Linked DNA regions of Homo sapiens: regions 2 and 3 are each linked to region 1. The links come from fine-mapping of genetic effects on gene expression. A gene starts in region 1. Each other region holds a variant in brackets. All regions are shown on one strand. Distances are between the middles of the regions. Region 1 holds the start of EIPR1 (EARP complex and GARP complex interacting protein 1). Region 2 overlaps EIPR1 (EARP complex and GARP complex interacting protein 1). Region 3 holds the start of LOC107985840 (a long non-coding RNA gene).

The links. PIP is the estimated chance that this variant, and not a neighbour inherited with it, causes the effect.
Region 2: its variant is the best candidate, but not a certain one, in a credible set for the expression of EIPR1 in whole blood (TOPMed, PIP 0.88).
Region 3: its variant is the best candidate, but not a certain one, in a credible set for the expression of EIPR1 in monocytes after LPS (Fairfax 2014, PIP 0.82).

The regions. Positions count from the first base shown.
Region 1 is chr2:3,375,276-3,380,275 of GRCh38, forward strand. EIPR1 (EARP complex and GARP complex interacting protein 1) reads right to left here and starts at 2,543. Exons shown (of 9, transcript NM_003310.5): 1 at 2,373-2,543. The coding sequence starts at 2,414. TRAPPC12 (trafficking protein particle complex subunit 12) reads left to right here and starts at 4,419. Exons shown (of 12, transcript NM_016030.6): 1 at 4,419-4,601. RefSeq lists enhancers at 2,047-2,326, 2,347-2,526, 2,547-2,596, 2,868-3,384, 3,385-3,901 and silencers at 2,767-2,826, 4,390-4,439.
Region 2 is chr2:3,248,909-3,259,411 of GRCh38, forward strand. It overlaps EIPR1 (EARP complex and GARP complex interacting protein 1), which reads right to left. Exons shown (of 9, transcript NM_003310.5): 4 at 8,391-8,547. Among named protein-coding and RNA genes, the nearest start is that of EIPR1, 120 kb to the right of the region's middle. RefSeq lists a silencer at 3,190-3,484 and enhancers at 5,571-5,620, 5,631-5,760. The variant G/A (reference allele first, on the strand shown) is at 8,368.
Region 3 is chr2:3,183,585-3,194,701 of GRCh38, forward strand. It overlaps EIPR1 (EARP complex and GARP complex interacting protein 1), which reads right to left. Exons shown (of 9, transcript NM_003310.5): 7 at 10,415-10,582; 8 at 8,830-8,997; 9 at 5,386-5,924. The coding sequence ends at 5,750. It overlaps LOC107985840 (a long non-coding RNA gene), which reads right to left and starts at 3,784. Exons shown (of 4, transcript XR_001739257.1): 1 at 2,820-3,784; 2 at 2,439-2,594. The variant G/A (reference allele first, on the strand shown) is at 5,685.

The DNA of each region.
Region 1 (5,000 bases):
TGCTGAATGACGAGTTAATGGGTGCAGCACACCAGCATGGCACATGTATACATATGTAACTAACTGGCACATTGTGCACATGTACCTTAAAACTTAAAATATAATAATAATTTAAAAAAAAAAGAGAGAAAAAAAAGAAAATAACATTTCAGTTAACCTCAAAGATACAATACTGAAGATAAAATCCTCTGGGTTTTTTGAGAGATTTCTTAAGGAGATCAAGAAGTTAAATTAAGTAGCACTGGCAGAGTATGCATCTTCAGGTAGTACAAGATTATAGAACCTTCTATCTACCCATGTGGTCTCTCCCTGTGTATCCCTATGTGTATCTAGTTAAAGAGAAAGCAGTAGAACTTAGCAGGTAAGGGGACTCGAGGTCAGTTTGGGTTGAAAGTCTAAGTAGGTCAGAATCCAAGGTCTATCATTTACTAGTTAAGTGGCCTTGGACAGGTAACTATTCTCTCTGAGGCTGTCTCTTCATCCGTAAAACAGGAACAATAACACCTACCAATAATGATTGCTGTGAGAATTAAATGAAATATTTGTACAGTGCTAAGCAGAGTGTCTGACACATAGTCCAGAGCTAAATCACTGGTAGTTAAGCTATCAGTCTTGTGAATGTGATATAGCCACTGGTCAAATCCTATAGCACAGTTTATTATACAGGACACTTAACTGCTGCCCTGTATAAAATTTATTTGTAAGAATTTTGTCTTAGGCAGGGTGCGGTGGCTCATGACTATAATCCCAGCACTTTGGGAGGCCAAGGAGGGCAGATCACTTGAGCTCAGGAGTGTGAGACCAGCCTGGGCAACATGGCGAAACCCCATTTCTACAAAGGAAAAAAAAGGAATTTTCTCTCATTATAACAATTAGAACAACAATTATTGAACACACTATGCACCAGGCACTGTTCTACGTGATTCAATTAAGTGTATTAACTCATTTAATTTCATAACAGCCATGAGGTGGGGGGGAGGGAGATGCATATTTTATTGGCAAGGAAACCGAGGCCCAAGGTCACATAGTTAATAAGTGCTAGAGGCAGGATTTAAAACTTAGGTGTCTGGGTGGCATATGTTATTCTACTAACACTGCTGCCTCTCTGACTGTAACCTACTTAAAAACAGACATTGGCCAGGTGCGGTGGCTCACGCCTGTAATCCCAACACTTTGGGAGGCTGAGGCAGGCAGATCACAAGGTCAGGAGTTCAAAACCAGCCAGGCCAAGATGGTGAAACCCCGTATCTACTAAAAATACAAAAATTAGTCGGGCGTGGTGGCGGGTGCCTGTAATCCCAGCTACTTGGGAGGTTGAGGCAGGAGAATCACTTAAACCCGGGAGGCGGAGGTTGCAGTGAGCCGAGGTCACGCCACTGCACTCTAGCCTGGGCAACGGAGCAAGACTCCATCTCAAAAAAAAAAAAAAAAAGCAGACATCATTTATATCTTTAACACATACTGCTGCACAAAATTATGTATCAAGTATTTCATATGGCAGTGAACTGTGTTTCTATCTCTCTATCTGTCCCTCAGTGCTTTAGGCATAACACATTCTCAAAAGCTACTTGAATAGATGAAAACCAGGACAGGGCTCTAACAGGCCCTACACAATCCTCATCTTCCTCCCCCGCTCATCTCATCCCCTACCTCATTCCCCCTGACGCATTTACTCTATCCACGGCAGCTTTCTTGCTGTCCTGAACTACCATGTGCATTGCTTATGCTCTGGGGGCTCATTCGGTTCATAGTCATTTGTTGAACACCTACTATGTGACAGTCATGAAAAGGCACTGGAAAATACAAGGTAAAAAACTAGTGTGAAAACAGTTGAATCCGAAGACAGTCTGTGGTTTACTGAATATTAGTGTACCAATGTTAATTTCTAAGCTGTGATAAATGTACGATGGTTATGTAAAGTGTTAACATTAAGGGAAGCTGGGTGGAGGGTAAAGAAGAACTTTCTATGTATTTTTACAACTCTTCTAAATACTTTAAATTGTTTCAAAATCAAACATTTTTATTTTAAACAACATACAGTTCCTACCTTCAGGAACTCAAATTCTAGAGGAAAAGGTGGGCGTGTAAATAAATGAGTCCACCAAAGTGAGTGATAACTTCCAGGTCAGAAGTCATGTTCGGGACAGGATGTGAAGGGGAAGGAGGCAGGCCGGCTGTGGCCAACCCTGTTATCCAGTACAACCGTTTAACCTCCTAAAGCCTCAGTTTACTTCTCTGCAAAATGGGAACTAGGGAACAGACACGGGTCCTTGCAGGGCTGGTGGGAGATCTGCAAACCGAAGTCACCATGGGACCGCGCATGCTATCAACAGCCAGGCCGAGCAGCACCTGCCGCCCTCCCAGTGACCCACCTGGAACTCCAGCCCGTAGATCACTGGTGCATCGTCCTCCATGCTGCGGGGAAGCGACCCGACCCCGGCCACTCACACGCTAAGGACCTCGCTACGGCCGGCGCGTCCCCACCTCGCGGGCGTGTTCCCAGCGCCCATTCATTCCCTCCCCGCAGCAAACGACTCCAAACTGGAAGTCTTTCTGGCCCAGAACAGCTTCCGTAGTGGCCACTTCCTATTTTTCGGATGTGTCATCAATCTGTTCCTCACCAGCGACCAATGGCAGCGGCGCTGGCTTGTGCGCATGGCCACTTGGGCTCACATCCGGGCTCTCAGCGCGGGGACTCCTGGAGGTGAGAACCCGGCCCAGAGGAAATAAGTTGGTGGGCGGAGCGGGCCGCGGAGGCCGGCTGTGGGTGGAGGCCGGCTCCGAGCGCAGGCCGTCGGGAGCAAGCGGCGATTAGCCTTAGCTAGCCATCGCATCTAAGAATCGCTCACGCCGTAGTTGGGCGCCGCCATGTATTGTCATTTGTATGTACTTGGCGTTCCTGAGCGCTGGGCCAGCGCTTCACACGCACTGCCATAAGGAGCTTCATCCAACCCTATGAATAAGCTGTTACACTTCCATTTTACCGATGAGACGCTGCAAAGTTGAGTAACACAGTCGCAGCGCTCATTGGTCCATTGGGTAGCCAGGATGGGCACCTGAGCTGACTCCCTTAGGTTCGGCCCAAGGTGCCCTAAGTCAGGGCCATGCCTAATGCATTTCTGCAGGTGCCCAGCACTGTGTGGCAAAGAAAGCACTACCAAGGATGGGGTTATGAAAGCCGGCACCGCACCACTGGTGGTCCTGGACTGCATATGCCTCCGAATGGGAGTCGGAAGGGAAGGCCCTGGGGTTCCTAGAGGTCTCCAAAGACTAAAGACTTGTGGTGGAGAGACTGCCCCTCTTTCGCATCCTGCTCAAAGTGCCTGCCCTGGCCTTGGGCCAGCAGAAATGGCATCGCAAGGACTCCAAAATACATCATAGCTGAACCACGCCGCTAGCCTGGTTCCACCGGGGCTTCCAGGACCACGCACCTTTCCTCCATTTCTGTGATTAGCTTTCCCCTCTACCCTTTATTGATCTCCGTGACGGAAATGGTTGGGTCTCGTTTTGCTCAGTTGGGCAAGGCGCGTGGTATTGAGTTAAGGCTGGATGAGTATCTGTTGAGTGTATGAAATTTTAGAGATTACATGAGAAATCAAATGAGCAGGCCGGGCGCGGTGGCTCACGCTTGTAACCCCAGCATTTTGGGAGGCTGAGGAGGGTGGATCACAAGGTCAGTTCGAGACCTGCCTGGCCAACACAGTGAAACCCCGTCTCTACTAAAAATACGAAACTTAGCCCAGCGTGGTGGCACGCGCCTGTAATCCCAGCTACTCGGGAGGCTGAGGCAGGAGAATCGCTTGAACCCGGGAGGCGGAGGTTGCAGTGAACCGAGATCGCGCCACTGCACTCCAGCCTGGGCGACAGAGCCAGAGTCGGTCAAAAAAAAAGAAAAGAAAAGAAAGAAATCAAGTAAGCAAAAACAAGAAAGAAAGAAATCAAGTAAGCAATGGCCCAGACATGAGAATCATCCTATTCAACCACTCTGTTTGCCGATATTAACTTGCGGAGCTAAGAGGGCCTTCATACTTCGGGATTAAACCCACCCATCTATCACTGATATCTTTATCATTAATTTTATTATACAAGTACTGCAGGTGCATGGTAAGAAACTTACAAAATACAGATAAACACAAAGACAAATCCATAGAAACACTGATTTCTAGGATATGCTGGTCAATAAAAATAGCCTAAGCGACTCCCTTTCACCCGCCCCATCTGCCACAGGCTTGCCTATTGCCTCTGAGTGACAGAATCAGGCTAGGTGGAGTGGAGTCTCCGTTCCCATTTCCAAGTACAGGGTCCGCTCCCCTCAACTACCGGCTCCTGGTTGCCTGTGCGCGTTCACACCTAGGGCTCCAGGCCCCGCCCACAGCAGACGAACCGGAAACGAACCCCATTTCCGGCCTGGGGGCAGGGCCTCGGGTTCCTGCATCGGGCCTGAGCAGAACTAGGCGCGCCGCGGCCCGGCACGCGCAGGCGTACAGAGCTCCCCGGGGGTGCCAGTTCCTCTCCGATTCCCGGCTTCTGTCACCTTCCTCACGGACCTTGGTCACGGCCGCAGGTGACCCCTTAGCCCAGCTCCAGTGGGCGGGTGGCAGGTGAGGATCAGGGCCTCGGCAGTCCAGAGGGGATGGGACCGTGTAGCGCCACCTCGGGGAGGGAGCACACTGGCTTTGGCCTCAGCCCGGAGGGACCTTCTCTGGGACCGATGCTAGAGTGGGCGTGGGGTCCGGGCGCGGGGTCGCCTGCCACCCAAGGGCGTGTGTGCTCCGCGGGCCTTGTGCCAGGCTCCACGTCGCCGCGGCCCTTGCTCTCCACGTCTGCAGAGGGCTGGAAGCGTCTCTGCAGCCCGCGGAGTTTGCGGGAAGGGGAAGCTGCTGCGAAGCGTGTGGGAAACTACCCGCTGGCGCGCGCCCAGGCGTCCCCGAGACCCCCAGTTCCAGGCTTGGTGCCAGCCAGGCCCCCAGCAAGCCCCTTAACTTCCCTTAGACTTAATT
Region 2 (10,503 bases), 120 kb before region 1:
GAACAGATGCTGCTGCCATGCTTCCTGTACAGCCTGTGGAACTGTGAGCCAAATAAACCTCTTTTTTTATAAATTACTCAGTCTCATGTATTTCCCTATAGCAATACAAAAATGGACTAACACATTAAATAGGTACTGAGGAGGGGAGCATTGCTACGAAGATGCTTGAAAATGTGGAGCAGCTTTGAGACTGGGTAACGAGCGGAGGTTGAAGGAATTTGGAGGGCTCAGAAAAAGAAAGCAAGATGAGAAAAAGTTTGGAATTTCTTAGAGACTTATTGAGTGATTGTAGCCAAAATGCTTATAGAAATATGGACAGTGAAGGCCTGATGAGGTCTCAGATGGAAATGAGGAAGCTATTTGAAACTGGAGCAAAGGTCACCCTTGTTAATGCCTTAGCAAAGAGCTTGGCTGCATTGTGTCCATTCCCTGGGAATCTGTGGAAGTTTGAACTTAAAAGAAATGACCTAGAGTATCTGGCAGAAGACATTTCTCAGAAGCAACGTATTCAAGAGGTAGCCTGGCTGCTTCTAACAGCCTACAATCAGATACAGGAGCAAATAAATGACTTAAAGTTGGTATTTATGTTTAGAAGGGAATCAAAGCATAATGTTTGGAAAAGTCACAACCTGGCCATGTAGAAAAGAAGCAAAGAGGATTTTCAGGGGAAGAATCCAAGAGGGCTGTGGAGCAACCACTTACTAGAGAGATTTGCATGACTAAAAAGGAACCAAGCACTAATAGTCAAGACAATGGGAAAAAGGCCTTGAAGACATCTCAGGCATCTTGGGAGGGGGAAAGCCCCTCCCATCCAAGGTCCAAAGGCCCAGGAGGAAATAATGGTTTCCAAGGCCAGGCCCGGGGCCCCACTTCCTTGTGCAGCCTCAGGACACTGCTCCCTGCATCTAGCTCCAGTCATGGCTCAAAGGGGCCATAGGTACAGTTCCGGCAGGTGCAAGCTATATGCCCTGGCAACTTCCACATGGTGCTAAGTCTGTGGGTACATAGAATGCAGGAGTGAAAGAAGCTTGGCAGCTTCCCCTAGATTTCATGGGATACATGGGAAAGCCTGGGTGCCCAGGCAGAAGACTGCCACAGGGGTGGAGCCACTGCAGAGAGACTGCACTAGGGTAATGCTTAGGGGAAATGTGAGGTTGAAGTCCCCACAGAGTCCCCATTAGGACACTGCCTAGTGGAGCTGTAGGAAGGAACCTTCTGCCCTCCAGGCCCAAGAATGGTAGAGCCAGAAGCAGCTTGCATCCTGAGCCTGGAAAAACCAAAAGCACTTGACTCCAACCCATGCAGGCAGCCATGGGGACAGCTGGCCAGGGTTTTGGGAGCCCAATCCTCACACCAGTGTGCCCTGGACGTAGGACATGGAGTCAGTGTTGGAGCTTTAACATTTAATACCTTTCCTGCCAGGTTTCAGACGTGCATGGGGCCTGCTGCCCCTCTGTTTTGGCTGATTTCTTCCTTTTGGAATGAAAATGTTTACCTAATGCCTGCACCCCCATTGTAATTTGAAAGTAAATAACTTGATTTTCATTTTACAGCCCATACCTTGAGTCTCAAATGAGACTTTGGATTTTTGAGTTGGGGCTGGAACAAGTTAAGACCTTGGGGGACTACTGGAAAGAGATGATTGAATTTTGTGATGTGAGAAGGACATGAGCTCTTTGAGGGCAGAAGCAGAATGGTATGGTTTGAATGTTAGTCCCCTCCAAATCTCATGTGGAAATGTGATCCCAATGTTGGAGGCATGGCCTAGTGGGAGGTACTGGACCACAGGGGCGGATCCCTCATGAAAGGCTGAGCACCCGTCCCTTGGTGATGACTGAGTCTTCTCGCTCAGTTAGTTCCCACAAGATTCGCTTGTTTAAAAGAGTCTGGCAGCTGCTTCTTTCTCCTAACAAGTGATGTCCTGGCTCCCCCTTCACCTTCCACGATGGTTGTAAGTTTCCTAAAGCCTCACCAAGAGCAGATGCTGGTACCATGCTTATATAGCCTGCAGAACCCTGAGCCAAATAAACCTCTTTTTTTTTTTAATAAATTATCCAGTCTCAGTATTCCTTTATAGCAATGCAAACAGACTAACAGAGGCAGCTAACACACATAAAATAAAATATAACAGTGTGAGATATACTGAAAAATAGTTAAAACATTACACTAGATGGGCATAATTTGATAAAAGCACCCCCAAGGGAGTGTTCAGTTCAATTCCACCCAGGCGGCCAGCGGTCTGCTGAACTGACTTCATCCACAGAGGGAACTCATCTGAATGATTTCCAAAGTCCTTTTCAGCGAGAAGACTGCGGCCGTGCCCTCTGTAAGTTCCTACTCCTGAGGCAGGCTGCCTTGGCTGGAGTAGCAGGGGTGTCAGCCACTGTGAGGCTAAAGGGAGGGTGGGAAGAGGGTCTGTAATTTATTTTTGATTCATTAAAAACAAAGTGATGTGGCACTGAGCAACAGTCAATAAATGTAGACTCTGCATCTAATAAACAAATAAATAAATGTCCTCTACATCTAATAAACGTAGAACTGGAAAGAATCCGAGGCCCCACAACCACCCCCACTCCACACACAAGGGAACAAGGCCTCAACAGAAATGACTTGCCCAAAGTTGGAACACTACAAATAACTACCTGTAAATCTGAAACGAGAGCCCGCCACCCTAGGTCTGCTGCCTTGAAGTCCACCATCTCTCCCACAAGTCACTATAGCTGACGAAGAAGCAAACCAGAGGTAGAGAGGGGAAAGCAGGTTTAAAAAGAAGGGCATTTTGTTATTTTCAAAATGCTTAATTCCCATATACAGCATACTTTATTAATGTTTATCAACCAAAAGGACCAGCTAGAAATACTGAAACATCCTCAACGCTTACTGTCATGAAGATACATTTATATTCCCAGGAACAGAGACAATTTCATAATCACACTGTGAGGAACACAAATGGCTCCTTCTGTTCATTCAACAGGGAGGTGATCCCAGTGTTTCTGGAGTTCTGGGGCGAGACTTCTGGCTATGAATCCTGAATACTCCCTCTGTAGGAGTGAGTAATTCCAGATACCTTTACCTTAATCTCTTGGGGCCATGGGAAAGGACAGTCCCTACTTTACAGGATTTGCATGAGTGAGGTAATGCATGCAAAGCCCTAGCAAAGGGGCCTCGTTCACAGAACGGTTCAATACGATATGGTTGTTGCAAAGCATTCATTTTCTCACTCAAATACGCGGAGTGTCCGCCCTGTGCTGTCCTTGGTGCTGAGGACACAGCCTCGGACCTGACAAAGTCAGCAGCTTCTGCAGAGGCTCAGCGTCCACAGAGAACACCACACGTGAGTGAGAACAGAGACGGGAGTACTGAGCAGCGGCAACTCCTACGAAGATAAAACGGCAAAACGGGCCACGTGCAACAGCTCACACCTGTAATCTCAGCACTTTCGGAGGCTGAGGTGGGCGGATCACCTGAGGTCAGGAGTTCAAGACCAGCCTGGCCAATATGGCAAAACCCCGTCTCTACTAAAAATACAAAAATTAGCCAGGCGTGGTGGTGGGTGCCTGTAATCCCAGCTACTCAGGAGGCTGAGGCAAGAGAATTGCTTGAACCCGGGAGACAGAGGTTGCAGTGAGCTGAAATCATGCCACTGCACTCCAGCCTGGGTGACAGAGGGCGATTCCATCTCCAAAACAAAAACAAAAACAAAAAATTGGGCAAAATGGCAAGAAATCACAGGGTGGGGCAGAGCATGGTGACTTGAGAGGGAAGGGTTAACCAGGCGAGGCTGAGACAGGAGCGTCTAAGTGGGGCTGGTGATGGGGCAGGTCCTCTAAGGCCAGCTCAGGGGCTCCATCCCTGCCGGGCAGAGCTGCAGAGCACCAGGGCTGGCGGGGACCTGAGGGGCCCTTACAGGAACCCCGGCACTGCCTTGTTTTTAGGATCTTCCTTAGCAAATATAGTAAGGGACACATTTCCACTGTAAATCAGAAATAAAAAACTCTAAGAACCCCACCCATCTGAACGGACTTTCTCCCTAGCCAGGGCTCTTTTAAAATTTAACCTCAAAGGCTGTTTTAGGCCATGATGGGAAGTGGGGATCGGACGTGCCTCATTCTACCTCTCTGGCATCAACATCGACACAGGCTTTAAGTCTGATAGGAAACATTTTATAGCCTGTTCTCTCGGAAGCTGCCACCTGAAGTTTCCTCTGCAATAAGAACTTGAGTCTCCACGGTCCTTTTTCCTAACCCAGGCATCCCTTTCAGTTGATCTCAGGTCTTTAGACAAATTCAACCAATTGTTAACCAGAAAATGTTTAAATTTACCTACAGTCTGGAAGCCTCCTGCTTCGAGTTGTCCCCCCTTTCTGGACCAAACCCATGTATTTCTTAAATGTATTTGATTGATGTCTCATGACTCCCTAAAACGTATAAAACCAAGCTGCGCCCCGACCACCTTGGGCACATGTTCCCAGGACCCCCTGAGGGCCGTGGTCACTCATATTCAGCTCAGAATAAATCTCTTCAAATATTTTACAGAACTGGACTCTTGGTGGACACCATGTAGAGGCCCTGCCACACAACCATCAGCTGAGCAACGTCATCGCCGTTTCAGGGATGAAGGTTTGAGCTAGAGAAATGAGTGACTTCCTAAAGACCCTACTGCTCCCGAGGAGTGGGTGAGGACGAGAAACCGGACTCAGTACTTCCCAGCTAGTCTCTGTCTGCTTCCATAGGCTGCCTGGCTCTGGAGCATGTCTGATTAGTGTTCTGGGGGGCACACTGGGTCATAAGGCTCTATAAGTTCCTTCCTTAGCCTTCGCTGTTCCCACTAGCAGGAGCTAAAGGCGACTGGTGGGGTGCCCTGTTCAGCCTCTGCTTGTTGGAGTGCTGAGACAGACACAGGAGGGGTGATGGAAATTAGGACATCAGATTGCTCCAGACAGGCAAAAGCTGAAATGGCCAGGAGGACAGGAGCCCCTAACACCATTTCCTGCGGTGTGGGGCATGCCTCTAGTCTGCAGGGAGCACCCATGGCAGGCGTGATGGCAGCTGGAGTGGTAGCGACGTGAGTGTGGGGAACCGTGTGGCATTCTCGGGCACTCCCAGGTGGCCAGAAGCTTTGTGCAGTAAACATCTCCTGGAGCTGTTCTTGGTGCCAATTATATGCCAAAAGGAGGCAAACAAAACCACCACCAAGCACCTGGAGCCTGACCCCAAAGGGCAGCCTTCACCTGTGCCGTATTCACCAGACCGACGTTCCCCCAAATCAAATTCCCTATCTAATCATAACACTTTCACACCATGGAAGACACTTAAAAGAACACGCATGATGACACCAAATGCTGGGGAGGACGCAGAGAGGAGGAGCCCTCACGCTCTGTCATGGCATCACACGTGCAGCAGCTCCACACAAAACTAACTGAGCCGAGAGAAATAAAACTTCCTGTTCATACAAAAACCTGTTCATTAATACTTACCGCAACTGTAGTCATAATCGCCAAAAACAAGGAAAAACCCAGATGAGCTTCAACAGGCAAGTGCTTAACAAACCGTGGTGCGTCATGCCATGGGATATCCCGCCGCAGCAAAGAGGAACCAGCCACTGACCAGCACGCATGGTGGCTGGAACCCAAACTTGAAAATGAAGCAGCAACTCAACCTCCAGGGAATCAAGCCGAGTAAAGAACATCAGTTATTAAAGGTTACACTGTGGGTGATTCCATTTATAGAACCTTCTCCAAATAACAATACAGAGATAGAGTACAGATTCGGGGTGGCCAGGGGCTAAGGCCTTGGAGGCGGAAGGGAGGTGGCTGTGGTTATAAATATAACATAGCACAAGGGACCCAGGGTTGGAGTTGTTCTGTGTCTTGACTCTGGTGGTGGCTACACGAACCCACACACACAATAAATGGCACAGATGTCAATGTTCACACACGAATGCATATAAACAGGAGGAATCTGTGTAAGTTCAGTGGGCTGTATCAATGCCAGTTTCCTGTTTGTGATACAGTACCATAGTTATGCAGTGTTACTATTGGGGAAAACTGGCTGAAGGATACACGGGATCTCTCTGTTACTCCTATAACTATATGTGAATGTACAACCTCAAAATAAAAAGCTTAAGAGAAAAAAGAATATGCAATAATATATTGGATAACAAAATGGAATTCAAGCAATACTTTGAACAACAGAGGCAAAATCAGAGCAAATGGCATTCCAAGGTAGATCTGAGGATAGTTGAATTTGCCTGTTTAATATCAACAATTACTTTCTTACTTTCTTTTTTTTTTTTTTTAGACGGAGTCTCTCTCACCCAGGCTGGAGTGCAGTAGCCTGATCTCAGCTCACTGCAACCTCCGCCTCCCAGATTCAAGTGATTCTTCTGCCTCAGCTGCCCAAATAGCTGGGACTACAGGCACGTGCCACCACACACGGCTAATTTTTGTATTTTTAGCAGAGATGGGGTTTCACCATGTTGGCCAGGCTGGTCTCGAACTCCTGACCTCAGGTGATCCACCCACCTTGGCCTCCCAAAGTGCTGGGATTACAGGTGTGAGCCACTGCACCCCACCTTCAACAACTATTTTCATAAGTCTATGTAGGTATGATGCAATTTAACATTACAATCTAATAATCAGTTCCCCATGACACACACCCATGTGGCCTGTCTTTGCATACAGTGTCTGCACAAGGTGGGAAGTTGAGAAGCAGTCTGACAGCTCCTTGTCCCCAGGCAGGGCCAAGGTCCCTTTTCTGAGCTCACCTGTCTCTGCACATCCCAGCAGGACTGCCATCCGCTACACATGCTAACCTCCCTAACGTGACCACTGACCTGCGCAGAGTCTCACTCATCTGCTCCCTGGTGCCGGTGTCTCCTGCAACGTGTACACACATTAACACATACACAAATGTGCACACATACGTGTGCACAGAGACACAAGCACAAATGTGTGCACATGTGCATCACACACATGCGCACAAATGTCTATTTGCTGGGGATGTGGCAATCATTTGAAATGTGGAACTCCTAACAGTGCTGTGTGGTTTGCACAGAGATCCTGCATTCGGGCGGGGAGTGACAGCAGTGGCAATCACTCCTGGGGACTTTGGGACTCTTCATCTGCCTCCCCTTACTGTGCAAGACTGGCTGTGATTTTAATACTCAGAGCATCTCCGTAAGAAGAAATATCCACCGACGTGGTAGAAGCACAGCAAGTATAAAAATAATTCCACCACAAACTGATACACAGAGAGCATCCGGAGCCACAGACTGCCTGACCCTCAGCACTGCTCTCCTCCATACCTGACGAGGGAAACCTGAGTCGGTCCTCAGTCCCCGTTCCAAACTCCACCTCGTAAGCGAATCCCTCTTCAATTCCTCTAATAACAATTAATGGCTGCTCCTTCCGGGGCCACAGCGTACAGTTCGTAATGATTTCGGGGTACGCCACGGCTGGCCCAGCCACAGTTAGTTGTGTACACCCTGGGTCTCCCCGTGGAGATCATGACTCTCGGAGGCCGGGCCCTCTAACTTGTCACCTTGGTGTCCCTGGAGCCTGGCAGGGTTTCTGTAGCAGGTATTTAATAAGTATTTGTTGTATTAAATTTATTTAATTGGTAGAACTGACGAGACAGAAGTCACTGTACAAACGATTTGTCTCTTGCAGACACACACGCACATGTGTATGTGTTAATGCATTAAGTAAAACAATCACTATCGTTATTGTAAACACTCATAACAACAGTATGCCCCCGCAATCTCCTTTAGAAAATACGGCTTCTTAATTTTTACCAAGGCCTCAGGGCCTTCAGAGAGCAGCTGTGACTGCCGTGGAGAGGTCCCTGGGAATGACCAGTGGGTGCACACAGCCAGGCCTCCAAGCTCATGAAGCAGCGACTGGCCAGGGAGCCACGTGAATGACACACCACATGCCGGACACGGGCGGGCTTGGGCACGCAGCCCCACAGGCACACCACGCATTCATGCTTTGTCCACGGGAGGAAGGGATTGTAAGCCTCAACCTGAAGTGGTAAATAATTGCCATGTGAGTGTGAATAAGTGCATGCTGACCAAGCTGAAAAGCCACACAGCGCTCGAGGGCAGTGCAGTGCCTGACCCTTTACCCTCTGGCAGGTCCCCACGGGCAACACTCCTCTTAGATGAAGAGGAGAAAGTGGGGATGCAGGCGCGCTGGCTACATTTCTGTCAATGCGGCTAATCTAGAAAACACAGGGACTAAAATTAAAAATCAAATTCTCGCAGCTTTTTAAAAGAAAGGAGCGTTTCCGAGGTGTGGACGGTGGCTCCTGCAAAGGAATCTGCACAAGCTCCTGCACCTGGCCAACCTGCAGGCTCGTTCTGGGC[G/A]CATGAAATATGCAAAATCCTACCAGGCCATGTTGCCATGGGCTGTGTTGTCAAGGTGACAGAGCAGCTCCAGGGTCTGTGCAGTGCTGGATGAATCATCAGGGGACTCGTGGCTGCCTGATTCCAATTCCTTCGGCATCCTCCACACGGCTGCACATGTCAGGACTTTGCTGTCTGAAGCTGAGCAACAGAGCATAATGGATAATGTCAACAGAGCACGGTGTGCCCCGCATTCTGCAGACAGCACACGCACATTTACACAAATCCATAAGCAGCGCGCATCTGCTCTTTAAAATATGTACGATTGCAGGCAGCAAAGACGGAGCAGGGAGAAGCACAGCCTGAGTCGGCAGGCAGAACCCGGCACGGTTCGTAATCAGCATCCTGTTCCCCACTTTCTCTTTGTTTTAAAAACCATCATGCTGTTTCAAAAGAAAATTTAATTTCCTCAAAATCGATTTCCTTCCGTTCTTCTTCAATAGTTCTTCAAAAAAGGGAGCAAAATGGGGGACTAAAGATATAATCACCACGCACGCAGCTGGTGTCTAAGGTTGGCATTAAACGGGTTTTCTCTCCATAGCTGTATGAGATCACCTTAAATGACTATTAGGCACACTGAGCGATATTCCATTCGGAAATCCTGTCACGCATGTTATTCTGCCTCAGTTTACCTAAAGTGATGAGTATCTGGGACCGGAAGGTAATGCCATTCAGAGGCATCGCATGCTGAGGCCTGGAGCCCTGGTGGGCAGCAGGTGGCAGCCCAGCCTGGTCATGTCACCATCAATACAGCCTCTTCTCCTAGAAATGAGAGTGCCATCCTTACACGATCCTGCTGGTGGCTGCTCGGTCTCCCTGAGTCTTGATACTCTATTTTCAAGATGCTCCAGGAATCTAGAGTACCTAGAAAAGCCACTTTGTGGATAGAGACTCAACCTGCATTAGAAAGACTGGGGTCACTTGTTTCCAAGGAAGGTCTCTGATGCTCTAGAAAATTTCTCAATATGATAAATTTTTTAAAAATTAGATTTAACATTGAATTCTTGAACATAAATCCTTTCAGAATTTGCTTTCCATTTAGTTTTCAATTGAATATGTGCTAAACACCTCTCCCTTTTAAAGATGGCCTTTAATGAATAATCATAAACTAGCAAACAGGATTCAACATTAAATCATCAATTGATAACAAGTGAAGAACATAAAAATATTATATATTGCGTTAGAACATAAAAAAACATTTCATGGGTAGTACAAGAAGGAAAACAGCATGGCATTACAAAATAACAACGACCTTAGGTTACAATCGAAAATGTATCACTTACTGGTGATGATGCTCTTGCGATCTCAATATCAACTAATCGACCAAGCAATATAGCAACGAACTCAATGACAAAATATCTAACTTTGTGAATATTATTAATACCATTGTTAACCATGATTGAATGATAAGAAGTTAAAAGATTAAGACTTCAACCAGGATTTTCTGATTCCAAATTCAGTGACCATTTTATATACCATATTGGGTCTAAAAGAACATGCAATTATGGCTTAAAGAAAAAAAACTCCATCATATATTCATATAATGTTCACACTTCCAACTTTACAAAAATGGAGTGTACAGACAGTTCTGTCTACAAGGGAATTTTATTTATTTATTTATTTATTTATTTGCTGAAATTTTCAGTTACACGATCTTTCTGCAGAGCCCACGAGATTGGCAATGGCACTCCTGGAAACACAAAAATAACCAAAGGGAAAGTTGGCAATTTGGAGTAGGAAAGAAAAAAATGAATGCCTAACCCACTAGCACACACTAACCCAACAGAGGTGTAGATTATCTTAATCTTTCTAAATGGTAGAAAAATACATGTCTAATCTTACAAGTTATAGAACTAATAATGGGAGCACTAAATTGTGGCTGCACTTCAAAATGAATGAAATACACAAGATGACAAAGGCAGGGAATAGTAAAAACAGCTATTCTGTGGAAGAAATGACTAATGGCAGACACTCCCCCCCACATCCCCAACAAGTTCCTTCTTTGGAGAATTCTGTTCAGGTGTAAAGAAAGTGACTTTCCTGTAAACGCCAGCTCACCAAACTCCTTAACTATATCCACGTTGCCCTCAATAAAGC
Region 3 (11,117 bases), 190 kb before region 1:
GCAGGGCCTAGCACAGTGTCTCAGGGAGAACACCAGCAGGCTCACCCGCCCTGCTGAAGGCCTGCTCCTCCCAACTCCGTCCCCCAAGACCTTTGTCTGGGGTCCTTGTTGTTGAACTAAAGCTGGCCCTCTGGAGTTCCCACTAACAAGGGCTGTCCTCATGTCATTGGTGACACCCCTAGGAGCCCATCCAGTGCTCTCACACCCTGCCCCCAACACCGCAGCTTTTCACATCCCAGAGGAAGCAGCCACAGCTCTTCTGAACGAGCCACACACATTATGGGGCAGGTGCAGCCCACACAGTGTGTCCCTGCAGTATGCAGCATGTGCCCCGGGTGTGGGGAGGGGGACTTCCGGCTCCAGCTCCAGGACACCCTGAGGATGCTGCGTGATGCTTGCTGTGGGTTGGCAGGGCTTCACCAGGACACCCTGAGGATGCTGCGTGATGCTTGCTGTGGGTTGGCAGGGCTTCGCCTGCTGGTGTCAGAAGATGATTCTCAATTAGCGCCAACCCTCCCTCCCATCACCCGGCCAGGCAGAGAGCAGGAATGGAGAGCCACAGCCCGGCCATTTAAGAGCAGCGCCAACTCACTGGGCAGCCCACACCAGAAGGGGCTCCTGAAAAGTGTTAAATCCAAAATCTCCCATTGCTCCCAATCTCACACAGCTCCTGGATTCTCAGTTTAGCCCTGCCAGGCCCATGCTGCAGAGGCGCCTGCGGGGAAAGTGGGTTACTAATGACCCTGCTTTGTGCAGCTGGACACGTGCCGAGGTAAGTCAGGCCCCGGCCAGGGCACACCATGGATGACATTCATCTTTTCTGGCACTGACGCTGCCGTCCACAGCCACAGGCGACACCGCACAGCACCTGACACTGCACAGAGGGGCCAGGAGGACGGGTCGAGGCTGACTTCTTTCCCCATATTCCCAGCCCCCCAGGTCCTGGTAAAGAAGGTCCACATGTAATCCCATCACCTTCAACACAGCTTCTGTGTAAAGGAGGGAAGAACCCCATCTATACAGGAGGCTTGTCCAGCACAGCCCCTCCACCACCCCACGCGCAGGGGTGTCCAGTGCAGCCCCTCCACCACCCCACGCGCAGGGGTGTCCAGTGCAGCCCCTCCACCACCCCACGCGCAGGGGTGTCCAGTGCAGCCCCTCCACCACCCCACGCGCAGGGGTGTCCAGTGCAGCCCCTCCACCACCCCACGCGCAGGGGTGTCCAGTGCAGCCCCTCCACCACCCCACGCGCAGGGGTGTCCAGTGCAGCCCCTCCACCACCCCACGCGCAGGGGTGTCCAGTGCAGCCCCTCCACCACACCACGCGCAGGGGTGTCCAGTGCAGCCCCTCCACCATCCCACGCGCAGGGGTGTCCAGTGCAGCCCCTCCACCACCCCACGCACAGGGATGCAGGCTTAGCTCTGAAAATGGCATGGGCAACAAAGGATGCTGGTGATGAACCCCAAAGTCTCTGCATGGCTGCATCCTAACTGTTCCAGCTGTCCAACCAGTCACCTAGAGGTCACTGGGCTGCCTATGGGTAAGAATTGCTGGAGGCAGAGCCTGAGAGACTTGCATGAAGGGGACATGGCCTATGCCCCGGTCGGTGGACAGAGCCGGGCAAGGTGCCCCTAGCCTGTTTCAAAATCCTCAGAAGGGGGATGCTTGCTCTGTTTACAAGGGGTCCTTAAGATAAAACTATGTCCTGTGTTTGAATGTGTGTGCATTTTACAAATAGAAGTACTGTTGATGACGCCCAAACCGTGGCCACACTGATGATGGCCGCACTGGCAATGGCCGCACTGGCGATGGCCACACTGACGATGGCCGCACTGATGATGGCATTGGGTCCCACGTGGTGCTGTCCTGGGGCACACTCGCTTTCTCTAACGGAACCTCTCACCCTGTTCATCTGGAGTTGCTCACCAGATCACACCCTCGCCTTCCTATTCCAGGATATCCCTTCTCCCCCCTCTGTGCTTCTCCACTGGACTAGTCTATCCGCATTCAGAAACACAGATATTTCTCCTTCTTAAAGAGAGAGATCCTCAGCCGGGCGCGGTGGCTCACGTCTGTAATCCCAGCACTTTTGGGAGGCTGAGGTGGGCAGATCACCTGAGGTCAGGAGTTTGAGACCAGCCTGGCCAACAAGGTGAAACCCCATCTCTACAAAAATTAGCCCGGTGTGGTGGCGCATGCCTGTAATCCCAGCTACTCTGGAGGCTGAGGCAGGAGAATTGCTTGAACCTGGGAGGCGGAGGTTGCAGTGAGCCAAAATTGCGCCACTGCACTCCAGCCTGGGCGACAGAGCAAAACTCCGTCTCAATAAAAAAAAAAAAAAAGAAAGAAATAGAAAGCTCCTTGTGGTCACAGGCCCTGGGGGGCTACTCCTCCTGTTGTTTCCTTTACACAGCCCCTCCCGCTCCCAGCTTCCTACCTCTCTTATCCCGTGCCGCTCCTGCAGTTCATGCTGCTCCTGCTGTCCACGCCGCTCCTGCCATCCACCAGCTGCCAGGGGGCCTCCCCAGGGCCATCCACACCTCCATGTCCGTGTCCATCTCCAGCTCGTTCTCCCCCACATCTGACGCCCCATCTGCAGCATTGAGGGTGCCTCAGTCCTTCTCCCGGAAACCAACACTTTGCTTGGCTCCTGGATACCCCATGCCCTGTGCCCTCCCACCCCCAGACTCCTCTGAAGGAGGATTCAGAGGAATCTTCGCCTCCTCTGAAGGAGGATTCAGAGGAATCTTCGCCTCCTCTGAAGGAGGATTCAGAGGAATCTTCGCCTCCTCTGAAGATTCCTCGTCCCAGAGCTCACCTGAACGTCTTCTCTACACGACTTTCCTGTGGTCTTCTGGGGGCCCTGCCATCCGTTCACCATTGAAGGACGCTTGTGTTGCTTCCAGCACTTGGTGATTATGCCTGGGTAGAAATATCTGTGTATAGGTATTTATGCAAACATAAGTTTTATTTTCTGGGGCTGGCATTGGCAAACAGGCCCCAGGCCACATCCATCCACCGCCTGTCTTTGTAAACTCATGGTGTGTGTCTGGCAGGACAACCACAGAGAGGAACATGGACAGTGACTGTGGCCCTCAAAGTCTAAAATGTTTACTTTCCAGATCCTTTCTCGAAAAGGATCCAGGGTAAAGACGTGAGGGCTGACTGGTGTGGTGAGTGTGTGTTAAACTCATGAGAAGCCAGCCACCGGGTGCACAGTGGCCTCACCATTGCACACACACAACGCACACACACTGGCGGCTGTGTGCCAATCAAAGGCAGTAAACCATCCAAACTCTAAACTTCAGTCCTCACCTGTTCAGTGGCTTCCGTCTCAAAAAGGCAGGACCTCCAGTTCCCCATGGCTGGGCCTCCTGCCTCATTCCCATGCCAGCCCAGCTGCCTCCCTACCTGATCCACTCACCCAGGTGCCACCCCACCCCAACCCTGGGCCTTGGCTCACGCATCGCCTTCTCAGAGAGCCTCGCTCCCACAGCGCTCCCTGGCCCCTCCTCTACACTCCCCTGTGGCATCTGTCCCCATGTCACCTGATGGCCCACAGGAGCACTCACTCCAGGGGAGCTGAGACTTGCCCTAATCACAGCTGTGGCTGCAGCAACAGCAGGATCTAGAAGTGTGGGTACACAGTAGGCACTCAATTTATGTTTGTTAAACAAACACATTTTCTTTCAAGTGACAGCAACTGAAGGGAGGACTGACATTACAATGCCACACATTCCTCACACGTGCAGGTTTTACCTGGAAGCAGAAATGCTGGAGGGTCTGCAACACACCTGTCTCTGTCCACCCCCACTCCCCACCAGCACACCCCTCCCCAAGGCCCCCCGTACCAGCTTGCCCCTCCCCATGCCCCCCCCACCAGCACGCCCCTCCCCACGGTCCCACCCACCTGTGTGCCCCTCCCCACTCCCCACCCCCCACCCACCAGTGCGCCCCTCCCCACTCCCCACCCACCAGCGTGCCCCTCCCCATGGCCTCCCCACCAGCGTGCCTCTCCCCACGGCCCCACCCACCTGCATTCCCCTCCCCACTCCTCATCCACCTGTGCACCCCTCCCCATGGCCCCCCAACCAGCATGCCTCTCCCCATGGCCCCCCCACCTGCACGCCCCTCCTGACTCCCCACCTGCGCACCCCTCCCCACGGCCTCCCCACCAGCGTGCCCCTCCCCACAGCCCCACCCACCTGCATTCCCCTCCCCACTCCTCACCCACCTATGCACCCCTCCCCACGGCCCCCCAACCAGCGTGCCCCTCCCCACAGCCCCACCCACCTGCATTCCCCTCCCCACTCCTCACCCACCTGTGCACCCCTCCCCACGGCCCCCCAACCAGCGTGCCTCTTCCCACGGCCCCCCGACCTGCGTTCCCCTCCCCACTCCCCACTCACCTGCTTGCCTCTCCCAACAGCCCCACCCAGCTGTGCACCCCTCCCTACAGCCCCCACCTGTGGACCCCCCCATACTTGTCCCCTCGCCCAGGACCCCACCTTTTCACCTCTCCCCCTATGGCCTCCACTTCGCTGTGAACTCTCATCTATGAAAGGAAAATCCAGGATGCGGCCCTCTGGGTGCAGAGCGTCCTTAGCAGCACGGTACACCTACTGGCGGGGGCGCTGCAGCAGGAACGTGTCCTTTTTGCAGGTCGGGCAAGACTTGTCCTAGAATCGTCAAACCCCAGAGCTGATGGGCCTGTGAGCTCAGCCCATCCTTCCCCATCATTACAGATGAGGTGATCGGGGCAGCAGAGCGCAGAAGTGGCCCCTGCGGGGACACCTGGCCAGGTGGAGGCCTAAGGGAGATGGAGCCCAGAGTCCAGGGCCCAGGTGGCTTCTCCAGTGGGAACACGCACCAGACACAGAGAACAGACCCCGCACACCCAAAGGAACCACGAACAGAGGCTGCGAGGTCAGTGTTTGAGGATTCCTAAGGATAAGCACTGATGAGTGTAGGAGCCTGTGAGGGGTCCCCGACAACTGAGACGCGGGAGCCCAACCCCAAGCTCCGAGGTGAGGGAGGACGGCACCTCCAAGGCCACCAGTGCGTGCGCGTGGGGAGGAGGCCCTGCCCGGCTCACAAGGTGGGCAGGACACAGCACAGGATGGGCTGCAGAGACCAGGGGAGGCCCAGGGCGGGCAGAGCCTGCGTCTACAGCAGTGAAAATGCATCACACCAGCTCAGCCCAGGGCGCGAGCCAGGTGCCCACCAGCAGCCAGCATGGCTCCCGGGAGTTCCATGCTAGGGCGGCGTAGACAGCACACGTCTGTCCATCTGCATTTTCCCTGGGTCAGGAAAGAGAAAATGGACAAAGACCCAGGAGATGGGGTCACAGGGCAGAGCTCCTGAAAGAATGAGCCGAGCACCTGTGCAGCGTGGATTTATTTTATTTCATTTTTTACTCTCAAGAGAAAGAAGAGTTACTATTGCAGGAACAGACATTTTTTTAAAAAGCGAAACTCCTGACACCCTTAAAACAGAAAACATTGTTATTCACATAATAATGTGGGGCTCTGTCTCTGCCGACAGGGGCTGGGTTCGGGCATTAGCTGTGCCGTCGACAATAGCCCCATTCACCCCATTCATAAATGCTGCTGCTACAGGAAGGGAACAGCGGCTCTCCCAGAGAGGGATCCACCTGGAACACGAGTCACCTCCAAAGAGCTGC[G/A]ACTGTTTGAGAATCTGCCAAGAGGAAAACCACTCAATGGGACCTGGATAACCCAGGCCCGGGAGTCATAGCAGGATGTGGTACTTCAGGGCCCTGGGCACCCTGTTGATCACGAGCCTCCCGTCATAGCTCAGGGAGGCAAACAGCCACGGGTCAGCCGAGGACCAGTCCACGGCATAGACGCTGTCCTCGTGCTCCTCGTAGGTGGCGATCACGTTGTCCTGCAGGGGCTCCTTGCTCCTGCAATGCAACAGAGGCAGACGTGAGCGCAGCAGCTCCGGCGGGGCGGGCAGGAGAGGGGCAGGGAGGACGCGAGCGCTGACATCGGGAGACACGGGAGGTACTGGGGCCTCAGCTTTCTCCGCTGTGGGATGGGAAGAATTAGAGGAGCCCACACCGAGGACGGTGGGGTGGTCCCTGCAGAAGCCCAGAAACCCTCACTGTCACTGTGAGGAGTGGGCATTTCTCAAAAGGTTTATGGAAATCGGCGACATTGGCACATGGTGTCTTGGTTTCTTCTGTCCTTGGCCCCCGGGTGCCTGGGTTGATATTTTGTTGGAGGTCTTCCAAGGGCTTCCTTTAGCTCAGGGGAAAGACTGGGGGAAGTAGTCACCGTGTCTGGGTAACACAGGATGTAAACGCCCCTATTGCTTGAGCAGAAAGGACCCTGGGAAGCAGCGGGTCCAGCTCCTGGCTGTGTAGGAGTCAGAGGCTGGGGCACAAGGAGCCTTGCTAGGATGGGAGTGGGGCTGGGCTGAGGATCCCCCAGGACACCAAGAGGAAGACGCCCTGGCCCTGTGGGAGCAGCAGAGGCGTGACCTGCCTGGCCTCCCCCAGGGTGTTTCCCACCTCGCCTCCCTTGACTGTGAGTTACCCTCACTGGGAGCCCTGACCAGGGGATCCTCACACAAGAAGCACCACTTCCTCAGCACAGCGTGCATGGGGAGGGGGCCCTGCCCGGCTCACAGCGGCCACTTTCCGGTGGACACAGGCTTCTCTGGCACTTTACTTCCCATTTCACAAAAAAATTCCCACATAATTTGTGTACCGCATTCTAACTGCTTTTGCATTTCTTTGTAGGAAAATGCTTCACCCCCCCAGCAAGACGGACCCTCCAGAACTCGCATGGTCTCTGGGAAGCTGGCTTCCCACAAAGTGGACCTGCCAGTGGTCAACTGCTGTTGTGGGACAAATGCCAGGTGCAAATCCTTAGGAGGAATCATGGTTTCCTGAATGCAGCAGGACATCAGGACTGAGGGATGTCCTAAGAAGTCTGCGTAGCCCCGATCACCTCCTCCCTTCCTATCTTGCTCCCATGACATTGCCGCCCAGAAGACAACGCCAGCAGTCTTCCGACCAACGGGCCCATCAGGCTCCTCCCCTAACAGGGACAGACATGGTGAGGAAGTGCAGACTCCCTGGGCCACTGGCAGAGAGGACGGTAAAGGGAGCCAGGCCCACAGGCACCGAGAGACCACTGGGCAGATGCTACCGTGCGTGTGCTTAAATACTATTCTATGGCAGACCGAGTTTCTAAGGTTTGAACAGAAAAACAACAGAGTCTGGCTCATGCCTGTAATCCTAGCACTTTGGGAGGCTGAAGTGGGCAGATCACTTGAGCTCAGGAGTTTGAGACCAGCTTGGGCAACATGGCAAAACTCTGTCTCTACAAAAAGTTAGCCAGACATGGTGCCATGGGCCTGTTGTCTCAGCTACTTGAGAGGCTGAGGTGAGAGGATCACCTGAGCCCAGGAGGTCAAGGCTGCAGTGAGCCATGATCGTGCCACTGCACACCAGCTTGGGTGACTTTTTTGTTTGTTTTTGTTTGTCTCAAAAACAAAACAAAGGCAACAGAGTCAAGAGACAAACAGATGGGCCCATCGCCACTGCAGAAAGGGTCCAAAGACAGAGACAATCAGATGGGCCCATCGCCACTGCAGAGAGGGTCTGAAGACAGAGACAATCAGATGGGCCCATCGCCACTGCAGAGAGGGTCTGAAGACAGAGACAATCAGATGGGCCCATCGCCACTGCAGAGAGGGTCCGAAGACAGAGACAATCAGATGGGCCCATCGCCACTGCAGAGAGGGTCTGAAGACAGAGACAATCAGATGGGCCCATCCCCACTGCAGAGAGGGTCCGAAGACAGAGACAATCAGATGGTCCCATCGCCACTGCAGAGAGGGTCTGAAGAAAGAGGTCTTCTCACAGAGGAATTTTAGACCAAGCTCAGGTGGGTAGGGGGAGAATTCAGACAAAAAACAGTGCAAAGGATCCCAAAACAGAGTGACAGACCCCATCGTATCTAAGGGCTCTGTCCAACTTCACAAGGTTTTATTCCAGAACCTCCTTCCTCTGGAACCTGGGGCAAGAATCTCTGCGGTTGCAACTGAATTGCATCTAGTCACCCCCCAGGAAGCGGCTGCCACTTCTAAAGGTGGACTGCTCAAGGACACAGGGGCCCTGGCACTGCACCGCTGACCAGAGGCGGGCATGAAGAGGCTGCCCTTAGCGATCTCCCATCTCACCTAGGATCAGAAATCAAGGTGCATAGGAAAAAGCTTTGGGAAAATCCAGAACCATGATGGTGTGACTAGAAAACCCACATCATGGTTGACCACATTTTGTAGAGTATCTAGAAGTGAAGTAGGACCCGGGTTTGAGACTGGGAAGGTTGGCCTGGAGTCTCCGCCCTGCTACCAGCCAGTGGAAGGCCCGTGAGCTGATGGCCAACAACCCGACCCCAACACGCTCAAATCCACGCCAGTGAAGACACTGACTGTGATGCGTCTCTTACAGGGAGTGCTGTGAGGATTGGGATATATTCGTTCTATTATTATTCATGCTCAAGTTTGAAGACCAGTGAGTCTTTTAAATCTTACAGATGGCATTCAATAAGAATACAAACACAAATAGATCTATTTTAAAACCGCACCTAACCCTAACGCACCTGCAGTGCCTCCCACCTGGGCTGCTAATGACGGCACCCCTGGAACTGTGAGTCCCCACAGCTGCAGTGGGTAAGGAGAGTGTCCCCCAAATGCACTCCTGGAAACTTTCTACATACACAGCCTGGCTCGGGAGATGGCTGTGCAGACAGGAGGCTCTGGTACAGCGTGAGCCACTCTGCAGTGCGTGCCCTTACTTCTCTTCAGAACGGTGGTCCTCCTGGTCACTGATGTCATCGTCGTCTACCAAGTGGCCGAAGGGCTCCGACGAGATGGACACCATGTTGGAAAGGATGACTCTGCTGTCACTGCTGCCCGTGAGGACCAGCTGGTCATGAGAGTGGTTGTAGCGGACGTTCCACACCCTGCAAAGGGCAAGGCAGCTGCTGAAATGAACTGTCACCCGCAGGCAACACCAACAATGGATCACACCGGCTCTGAGGGCCCCACTAGGCTGGGGCTCACGTTAGGCACTGCCAGGCAATCGGCCCCCAGTCACAGGGCCTGACATAAGGCAGTTTTCCGCTGAGGTTGGGTTTACTGCAGGTTTCTCTTAAGTCCCAAGAGACAGACAGGGAAGACTAAATGTTGGCTGAAACCTACAGGAGGAGAAGGCTTATCACGCAACATTTCAGACAAGCTTTCTAAAATTCGAAAAAAAAAAAAAAATACTGTCCCAGAAGCAACATGTGGATTAGCGATATCCTGTAATATCAAACAAGTCTCACGGCATCTTCCCAGTTGGCAGTGACTGTGGGTCCTGAGACCAGGGCATGGCGGCCTCCCGGGGCACAAGGGCTGTCCTTGGTTTTGGCTACTGGGATCAGCTTTCTTGCTGGCGTGGGTCCTAGAGCCTGGGAGCTTCTGCCTCCCGTCATGCTGAGGCCAAAACAAGCTCCAGGGCCCAGGTGGCAGACAGTGCCAGGCCCTTGACGCTAGGAGGTGCACCCAGCATGGCCAGGGGCACAGGGAGGCCCAGCCACTCAGACCACAGGAAATTCCAGCAAGTCACTGAATTTATCAGAAGTGTGCACTACCAATCCGGGGTTTTAACATACAGCTTCAGATAAGTAATTCAAACAATACAGAGATGCAGGCCATAGGGAGTGAATGCCCCTCTTTGACTTGGGGAGGATTCCTGATGAGATTTTGGCTCTTACTCTTTCAGACATTTCCTCCACATACCTGTGTCACTCACACTTGTGTACACCCGTGTGTGCACACACGTTTTATTTGCATAAAAATGGATTCATGCTATACATGCCATTGTACAACTTGATCTTTTTACTTACTTAGCAAAAAGTACCCAGCACATGAAAAACATTCAAATAATATGTTAGGGAGAATGAGTGACCTCAGAGATCTTCCCACAGCCACATAGAGATGCTCCACATTCTCCCGACAGCTGCATCATCTCCACTGCACGGATGTCACCTAATTTACTTAACCAGTCCCCTAGTGATGGACATTTGGGTGGTTTCCAGGTTTCTGGCATTACAAATAATGTTGCGTGAACATCTGTGCACATTTATTTTTGTATACTTGAACCAGCACTGTTTCAAGAGAAAACAGAATTTAATGTTTTTCTTCTTTTCCTACGTTTATAAATCACAAACATTCAGATTTGGAATTAGTGTTTCTTTAGGAAAAATAAAACTGGGTTGATTGAATGATTCACAGCAGCACAAACTAAGCTGGTTTGTGTCTTTCCCAATGGTAAAGTAATTAGCAAAATCAATTGCGTAATCCCCTCCTCCCTGAAGCAGCCAGGAGCGGCCCTACCAGTGGGAGTGCTCCTCCAGGGTCTTCACGGGTTCGGTGACATTTCGGGTGTCCCAGAACTTCACCTTACAGTCGTCTCCGCAGCTGGCCAAGTAGTACTGCTTATTGGGATTAAAGTCAAGGTCCCGCACCAGCTGTCCGTGGGCATTCTCTATGCAGTAGATCTGGCTGAGGGAGAAGGAAGAACAGCAAAGGAAAATAGTAAATGGATTAGGAAAAGCCACTGCGTGCTGCGGGCACACACTGGTTTCCCGGGACCCTGTCTAATCCCCCGGCCCAGGGTGCTCTCATCCCCTCGGCGTTCCTGCCCTGCAGGAAGAGGCTGGCGCCACCTCCTCCATCCCAGCAACCCTGTGTGGTCGCACCACGCTCATCTCTCCAGAAGCGTATCTGTGACCCTCTGGGCGAGCCGTGGAAGGAATTTTTGCTTTGTAGCCGTCAAAAATGTGACTTGGTATCATCTTGAGAATGAAAGCATGCCAGAGGGGCTGCAACAGCCATGGGGACACTGAGCCAGACATTTGGACAGGATGCCTGACACATTTCTGGAAGGACACAGTGAAGAAGGAAAAGAAAAAGACAGGGAGTTGAGGTAGAATATAGTGTTGGGAAATTTTATATATATATACATACATACACATACAACACAAAATATCTATCTATATATAGAACTATATATATACAGAGAGAGAGAGAAAGGGGG